2 separate regions of the Homo sapiens genome follow, and region 1 is linked to region 2. The links come from fine-mapping of genetic effects on gene expression. A gene starts in region 2. The other region holds a variant in brackets. All regions are shown on one strand. Distances are between the middles of the regions. Region 1 overlaps STX11 (syntaxin 11). Region 2 holds the start of STX11 (syntaxin 11).

Region 1 (4,367 bases), 39 kb after region 2:
AGCTGAGCGAGGCGGCTGAGGCCCAGCACGGCCCGCACTCGGCAGTGGCGCGCATTTCGCGGGCGCAGTACAACGCGCTCACCCTCACCTTCCAGCGCGCCATGCACGACTACAACCAGGCCGAGATGAAGCAGCGCGACAACTGCAAGATCCGCATCCAGCGCCAGCTGGAGATCATGGGCAAGGAAGTCTCGGGCGACCAGATCGAGGACATGTTCGAGCAGGGTAAGTGGGACGTGTTTTCCGAGAACTTGCTGGCCGACGTGAAGGGCGCGCGGGCCGCCCTCAACGAGATCGAGAGCCGCCACCGCGAACTGCTGCGCCTGGAGAGCCGCATCCGCGACGTACACGAGCTCTTCTTGCAGATGGCGGTGCTGGTGGAGAAGCAGGCCGACACCCTGAACGTCATCGAGCTCAACGTACAAAAGACGGTCGACTACACCGGCCAGGCCAAGGCGCAGGTGCGGAAGGCCGTGCAGTACGAGGAGAAGAACCCCTGCCGGACCCTCTGCTGCTTCTGCTGTCCCTGCCTCAAGTAGCAGGCCGGCCCGGGCCGCCACCGCCCATCCCAGACCATGGAGCGCGCTGGGAAGGACGCACCAAAGCCGGGAGCTCTGCCCTGCAGGGAGTTGCCCCAACCCTTTCCGGAACTCAGTCTTTAGAAAAGAAACGCCAGGTTCAAGAATTGCAAACCAGCCTGTGCTTGGAAAGATGGTTAGTTGATACCGTCCGATGATTCTTCAGTAAAGATAGATTCCCACAAAGTTGTGCAATGTCATTATATGACACCTTGCACTCTTACCGTCTTGACAGAAGCCAAGTAAGGAACTGAAGTTGTATCTGACTGTAGGGTGAATGTCTGAGGCCTGCCTCCTAATAAAGACTCAAGGAGGAAGTCAATTGGGCATCTGCTAATAGAATGAACTCATGATGGAAACTTCAGTTCATTTACTTTGTCCTGAAAATTCCCTGGTTCTGTTCCATTTTGAGCGAAATTGGCCTTGGGAAAAACCACGTTCTTCCTTTCCGATTCTTCATCCGGTCTACGCTATGCAATTCCTCCCCAAATATAGATCTTATTTCTGCTCATTTCCCCTACTTATTAAAATCACACCAAACACTTACTATTTTCTTATCTCTTTCACTTTTTAAATATCTTTCACCAGGTTATATTTTGGTATTATTTTTCCAAACATTTTTAAGCACTGAATATCGAACAAGCACTCAAATTGAAGTATCAGTCATGTTTTGTGTATTTTTCGCTGATAAAAATTATTTAACATTTATATTTTTACTTGATTACATATGCACATGTATGTAAATGTAAAATACTAATATTCACTAATATATGTACATAATGATCAATTGGTTTAACTTCTTTTATGTAAGTATGGTATATAAATTTCAAGACGAACACTTTTCTGGCTCTTGGTATTGGTTTGCTTGTTTTGAGTTTGTTTCACTCCAGTTTGCCCCTTCCTAGTCCAGTTTGGGTCAAACTTCATGTTAAACAACTCTGCATTGGTTATGGCGGTAGACATATGGCGGTAGAAAATGTATACGGAGCTAGAGACAACTAACATTCTTGGAAATACTGCTTTTGTTTTACTGTGGACCATTCCTTCCATGCATTGAAATGGAGAAATTCAAAGTAAAAGAATTCTGTTTTTCAAGCAAGCTTAATAAACATTACATTATACACATATTTTTATACATTTCTGGCTTGACCATTTAGTTTACTTTCTCAATTATTGTTAAAATTTTTCTTTTTCCTTTTTTTTTTTTTTTTTTTGAGATGGAGTCTCACTGTGTTGCCCAGGCTGGAGTGCAGTGGCAGGATCTTGGCTCATTGCAACCTCTGTCTCCCAGGTTCGAGCGATTCTCCTGACTCAGCCTCCTGAGAAGTTGGGACTCTGGGCGCGTGCCACAATGTCTGGCTAATTTTTTATGTTTTTAGTAAAGACGGTGTTTCACCGTGTTAGCCAGGATGGTCTTGATCTCCTGACCTCGTGATCCGCCCGCCTCAGCCTCCCATAGTGCTGGGATTACAGGTGTGAGCCACC[A/G]TGCCTGGCCTTTTTTCCCCCCTTTTGAGACAGGGTCTCCCTTTGTCACCCAGGCTGAAGTGCAGTGGCATAATCATGGCTTACTGCAGCCTTAAACTCCCAGGCTCAAGTGATCCTCCCACCTCAGCCTACAAATAGCTGAGACTACAGATATGTGCCACCATGCCCGGCTAATTTTTGTATTTTCTGTAGAGACAGGGTTTGCCATGTGGCCCAGGCTGGTCTCAAACTTGTGAGCTTGAGCAATCCGCCCACCTTGGCCTCCCAAAGTGCTGAGATTACAGGCCTGAGCCACTGACCCTGGCCAAATTTTTTTTCTACTAGCTACTGAGGCTGCCACATCTGGATGGAACTGAGTGGAGGGGGAAAAGAATGAAAAACTCAAAAGAATTCCCATGAGGGTGTCTTGCTTTCTCTCCTGAGTTACAATACTTTAGCAAAATCATGAGGCTTTAGAGATATGGTGTAGTCTGCAAACTTCTTAATGCCCTTACCCACATTTACCATGTTTCCTGGCCTTCCTCTGTGTCAACTCTTAGCTCTTCCTAATCATTATTTAATACATGAGTGAGTTTAGTAGTGATCATATTTCTCAGGTCCTTTAGAAGCTGGAATTTTAAAAGAATTAGAAGGAGGAGTATGTGAATTCTTTGGAGCTCACTGCCTGACTTGCTTATGACCAGGAAAATCTATCCCCTGTATCTAATTTTAATTTCATGGTTAAATTTGAGAATTGTGGAAACCAAGTTCCACAAGGCTATTCTCATATTTCTCCCAATTTCTTTTTCAGCCAACTCCAAGGATATGTATCACCTTTGACTTAATTTGCTTTCTCTAAGGGAAAGGGGAAAAAATGTTCACATAGCTCCACTGCAATGTTTTTTATAATAGAGGAGAGATATTGTAAATAGAGACTGCCAGCCAGTTTCCACAAAAAAACGAAGAGTTCATAAATTTGACATGTTTGAACCCATAAAGCATTTTCTTTGCTTGGAACCATTATAAAAGTAAGTGAGTTTTCAGGCTCTATATACATTTTAATTCCTCACGTTTTATATTGGAGAGTTCGGTACAGACTGTCCATTACTGCACCAAAAGAATGAGTGAACTGTTACCTATAGGGAAAGAACACTTCTTCTTCCTGCTGTTTGGGAACCATCTCAGTGTGGCGTAATGGTTAGGAGTACAGATTCCAGATCCTGTTTCTTAGATTTAAATCTTGACTCTGCCACATACTAGCTGTCTGACTGAACCTTGGTTTTTCTGTGCTTCAGTTTCCTCATCTGTAAAACGGAGATAACAGTACTTACCTCATAGAGCTGTTGTGAAAAGTGATGACTGAATATGTAAAAGCACCTAGAACAGTGCCTGGCACATGCTAAGTGCTTTGTTCATTATTGTTGTTATTATGTAATTTTCTCTCAGACTGAGAGCACTGTTAGTGACCCAAGTAAATTTATAGTTTTTAAGTACAGAGGAAAAATAAAGCCTATTTTTTGTTAACAGTCTTAATAAATAATAAAATGGAATAAAGAAACCAAGACCCCATCTTCTGTGAATATTAGGGCTTTTTTTTTTTTGACAGTCATAAAGATGTTTTCACTATGGCATTTCTATCCCTGTGTATATCCAAACATGTCCTGAAGAAGAAATGAGATGTTCCACCAAAAACACGTAAGCAGGAAGCAGCTGTTCTGCTCAGCTTGGCAGGTGTTCTTTCCTAATTCTTCCCAAGCTGTGAGTCAGAAAGTCCTGGAAGGAGTTGTAGGAAGTTGTAGAGGCTGGGTCACTGACCTAAGAGAAGGCATCATTTGGCCCACTGCACGTCCTGGCCTATTCACCAAAGCCCTTCCTGGCTCTGACTGCCACACCAGGCAGTGGGTGAAATGCTGGCTTTTTCCTTAAGAAATTGTGTTCTAGTGCCACCAAGAGATGCTGTAGAGCTGGCTTTACCAATCTCATGATGCTTGCTTGGCAACTCTGAAAGGTGACTTTGGCCAAGAAGACCTTGTGGCAATTCTGCAAATTTTATACACTCATATCTTTTAGGGTACAAAATGAAAGAACAAATCACAAAGAACAATAGATCCTTCAGGAGCTGAAGGTAAGAATCTTTTATAGCTATTTTAACATATACAGTGACTACTTTCTACTAGCCAAATATCAAATTTTACAACTACCACCAAGCCACAGATTATAGGTGGTAACAACTCCAGAAATGTCCTAACTAGGAAAGGTGCTCATCTAGTATGCATCGGTATCCAGGATAATATGAGTTAGAATTTTAAAAATGTCAGTCATTCA
Region 2 (4,394 bases):
AGGATCACTTGAGCAGGGGAGGTCGAGGCTGCAGGGAACCATGATCATGCCACTGCACTGCAGCTTGGGCAACAGAGTGAGCTGCTGTCTCAAAAAAATTAAAAATGTCATCAGCAAGCACCCTCACAGACACACCCAGGATAATGTTTTACCAAATATCTGGGCACCCCATGGTCCAATAAATTTGACACATCAAATTAACCATCACAGCTTTCTAACTCGTTGGCCTGTTTTAATCTTTGTCCTTTAATCTGTCCTCAACAAAACGGTAGATTAAAAAAACAACCAGCAACATCATTTAGCTTCTCTGATAAACATTCTTCAGTCTTCCTGTCTCAATCAATGTAAAATGTAAAGACTATCATGACTACCAATGCCCTACATGCTCTACTCCCCACTCCTAGCCCCACCACCATCACTCTTCCTGGACTCTGTTTTGCCCACGCTGATATTTCTCCCAGAAGCCCAGCATGCTCCTGCCTCGGGGCCTTTACATCCACTGATTCCTAGGCTTGAAATGATCTTAATCCCAATAGCTGCATTGTTTCCTCCCTCAATGATTCTCTTATCTTAGATGGCTTTGCAATATACCCATTTTTAAAAATATAACATACCTCATCCCTCTTATTTTACTTTCTTTTAAAATAAACTGTATTTTTTAGAACCGTTTTAGATTTACAGAACAACTGCAAAGGTAGTACAGAATTTCCATAAATTCCATTTCAGATTTCCCTATGATTACCATCTTACATTACATTCCTCACAACTAATTAATCAACCTTGATTCTTATTACTAATGAAAGTCCATGCTTTATTTAGATTTCCTTAGTTTTTCCCCAAGTCCTTTTTCTGTCCCAGGATCCCATCCAGGATACCACATTACATTTAGTTTTCACGTCTCCTGAGTTTCTTCTAGGCTGCGGCAGTTTTTCAGACTTTCCTTATTTTATTTTATTTTTTGTAGAGACAGCATCTGGCTATGTCGGCCAGATCAGGCCTCGAACTCCTGGCCTCAAGCAATCCTCTCGCTTCAGCCTCTCAAAGTGTACGGATTACAGGCGTGAGCCACGTCTGGACTGTACTTTCCTTACTTTTGATAACCTGACAACTTTGAGGAATATTGGTCAGGTATTTTGTAGGATGTTCCACTACTGGAATTTGTTTGATATTTTTCTCATTATGAGACTGAGGTTATGGTTTTCCAGGAGGGAGACCACACATGTAATATGCCACATTCATCACATCATATTGACTACATGCCATCAATGAGTCACGATTGTTGACGTTGGCTTAGAACATCTGGCTGGGGTAGTGTCTGTCGGCTTTCTCCATTGTAAACCTACTGTTTTTCCCTTTCCACATTGTACTATTTTGGAGGAAGTCACTGTGCACAGCCTAGGGTACATGATCTACATAAATTATTTGGAATTATTCTGTATAGGAGATTTGTCTCCTCTCCGCCTTTTATTTATTTATTCAATTATTTATTTATATCAGTGTAGACTCATGGATTTTTTTACTTTGGCTTGTAATCCAATACTACCTTGTTTAGTTTACTTCGTTGCTCAAATGGTTCCATCTTTGGCAACTGGGAGCTTTCAGGTGGTTCCTGTGTCTAAACATTCTGCCATCAAGGCAGGATTCGTTCTTTAGTTTTATTTTTTTTCTTCTCATTCAATTGAGACAGCGTCTCATTCTGTCGCCCAGGCTGGAGTACAGTGGCGCGATCTCGGCTCACTGCATCCTTGACCTCTCAGCCTCAAGTGATCCTCCCACCTTAGCCTCCCGAGCAGCTGGGATCACAGCGTGCGCCACCACGCCCAGTTAATTTTTTTATTTTTTGTAGAGATAGGCTTTCACCACATCGCTCAGGCTGGTCTCAAACTCCTGGGCTCAAGAGATCCTCCCCCTTCGGCCTCCCAAAGTGTTAGGAATACGCGCGTGAGCCACCGCGCCCGGCCCGATTTTTCCTTTTTTGAGTATCACTTCCTTACTTTTCAGCCTCAGCCTTGTTTTTCAAGGTGCTTTACCACCACCTGGCACAATCCACACTTTCTATTTATCCCTCCCCGTTAAAGTGCCGGGACCTGGAGGGTGGGTCTTGGCAGTATTTTTGAGCGCGGTGGGCACACAAGGGGACGCTCAGTTGATATCCAGAGAATGATGAGCCCGGCGGGTGTTGAGGCCGACTGGAGAGAGGTTGGTCGGCAGGGTTCTGGGAAGGCGGTGCTCGGCCTCCGTGTGACCGCAGGCTCCTCGCCCGCGTCCTCGAGGGTCCCAGGGATGCAGGACCTGCCGCAGCTTCCGCAGCCACACCCACGCTCAGAGACGGCTTCCAGCGTCCTCGCCGCGGCAACGCACCGGACTGCAAATGTCACCAGCGCAGCGGGGATTCCCGGGGGAAGTCCAGCGCGCTCCCTGCCCTGGGGACCAGAGGACGAGCGGAGGAAGTGTCTTGGGCGGCAAACATCCCACTCCCCGCGCCGGTCCGCGCAGCCCGCGGGAACGCCCCTGGGCTTGCGGGAGGGGCTGGAGCGCGTCCCCGGCTCCGGGCGGTCCCGAGCGCATGGACTCTGGGTGGGGCGGGAACCCGCGCTCTGTGAGCCGGCTGCCGCCGCGCCCCAGCGCTGTCATCCCGGGGCGGGGCCTGGTCCCCAGCTGTGGTCGCTTCCTAAGCGGCGGGGGCTGAGCCGGCGGCGCCCAGATGCGGCCGCGGCGGCGCGGAGCTCGGGCGGCCGTGGAGGAACTCAGCCTCGGCCGCAGGAGGCGCCGGGAGCGGAGCCGCCGGGAGTCGCGCAACAGGTTTCCTTCTCCATCGCTGCGCCCACAGGGGACGCGCGCCCTGCCGGGAGAGGGGCTTCTCGGTTCGCACTCTCGCTCCCAGTCCAGGTTTGTTTTTCTCTTCCTGAGCCCCCATTTCTCTTCCTGACTATTTTCCCCGTGCGCGGAGAGATCGGGGAGGGCGGGTCGGGGCGGGGGCACTGTCTAGGCTCGGGACCCGCGGCTGTGCCTTAGGTGGGATTTTGGATCTGGCGCAGGTCCTCACGCCGCCTCTGGGCACCTTCGGAAACACAGCATTGGGTTTCTCATATAAAGCAGAATGATTTTTTAAAATTACTTTTAATTTCAGAGGCTGAGGGACTTAGGATTTAGTGCTTCGTAAGAATTATTTTAGGGATACCTGTTGGTAGGCTGCCTTTATAAAGTGTCCACCCAAGACTACTTTTATTTTAAATCGAAAGGCTGGAGTGTTTTTTTATTATCACCTCTTCACTTCCTAGTAGGGTGACTGTGTCAAAAACACCAGAATGGGTACTTCTTGACTTGAACTTGGCGGTGTCACTCAGTAGCCAGGAAAGACGGAGAAATTGATAGAGCCTTCGAGGAGTCCCTTCGAAGCCCACGTAAGACTTTGTTTTAGAAACATGGAGAGAAGTAGTGGCAATGCCTGCGAGAGCCACGCCGTCCTGAGAGGGAATTCTGCCTTTTTCTAGACTCCGCTGACACCAGCTGAGATCTGTATTACTTCCTGTGGTTCTCACGCACTTGTTTCAGCCGTTTCTCAGCAGAGGGAGGAGCTGTTATTTACAGGTATCCAAAAATGAGTCACAGGGCTGCTCTCTTAATTGTGAGACTTTGTTAATGAACTTTTGAAAAGCGAGGCTTGCTTTAAAATGAGACTCTAGATGTGAAATGCCTGCCCTGCCAACCTGGGGCAGTGGTATGGGAAGTGACGATTGAGTTTTCAGTTTCCTAAGGCGCCTGATGTTACAACATGCCAGTAAAGGTCACTGGGCTGATCTAAGATAACCATTGAAATCATGTGCTTTGCCACAGATGCCCAAGAGAAAATTAATTTCATTATTCAATGACCATTTTGCTGTCATTTTCACTGCATGGGAGAAAGGTATCATTTAATGTGGTGATTGTAAGTAACTCTCTAAAATCAAAATATTTCAGACAGTTTGTGTTTACTAAATTGGTGCTAAAACCACATGATGATTTTTGAAGCGGGTGGGTCCCAGCGGGAGCAGAGAAATTTAAAAGTTGAAGCTGACAAGTCCTATTGCGGTGGGTAACAGCCCTTAGGAAGGGACTGCACACTATCTCAACACGGTAGAGAAGGGGACACCATCTCTACTGGAGCTGAGTTGAGCTGAATTCAGCCTCAAACAACAGTTACCAGGTACCTTCTCTGTGCCAGCCTCTTCCCTGAACCTTGCTTGTACAACCATGAATAATAGGATCCTGCCGGCAAGGTACTAGGGTAAATCTATACCCAGAGTGAAGTTTCTGTGCCAATATAACTCAATATGCTGGGTCCCAGTGTATTTAAAGAGTAGACTCAGCAGATTATCACCCCTAGATAATTGCGGTCACGATTAGTTGATAGT

What was found.
Region 1: its variant is fine-mapped to the expression of STX11 in blood mononuclear cells (TOPMed, PIP 0.96).

What each region holds. Positions count from the first base shown.
Region 1 is chr6:144,186,953-144,191,319 of GRCh38, forward strand. It overlaps STX11 (syntaxin 11), which reads left to right. Exons shown (of 2, transcript NM_003764.4): 2 at 1-4,367. The coding sequence ends at 539. Among named protein-coding and RNA genes, the nearest start is that of TRL-TAA1-1, 27 kb to the right of the region's middle. RefSeq lists an enhancer at 1-21. The variant A/G (reference allele first, on the strand shown) is at 2,064.
Region 2 is chr6:144,147,815-144,152,208 of GRCh38, forward strand. It overlaps STX11 (syntaxin 11), which reads left to right and starts at 2,703. Exons shown (of 2, transcript NM_003764.4): 1 at 2,703-2,889. RefSeq lists a silencer at 2,390-2,829.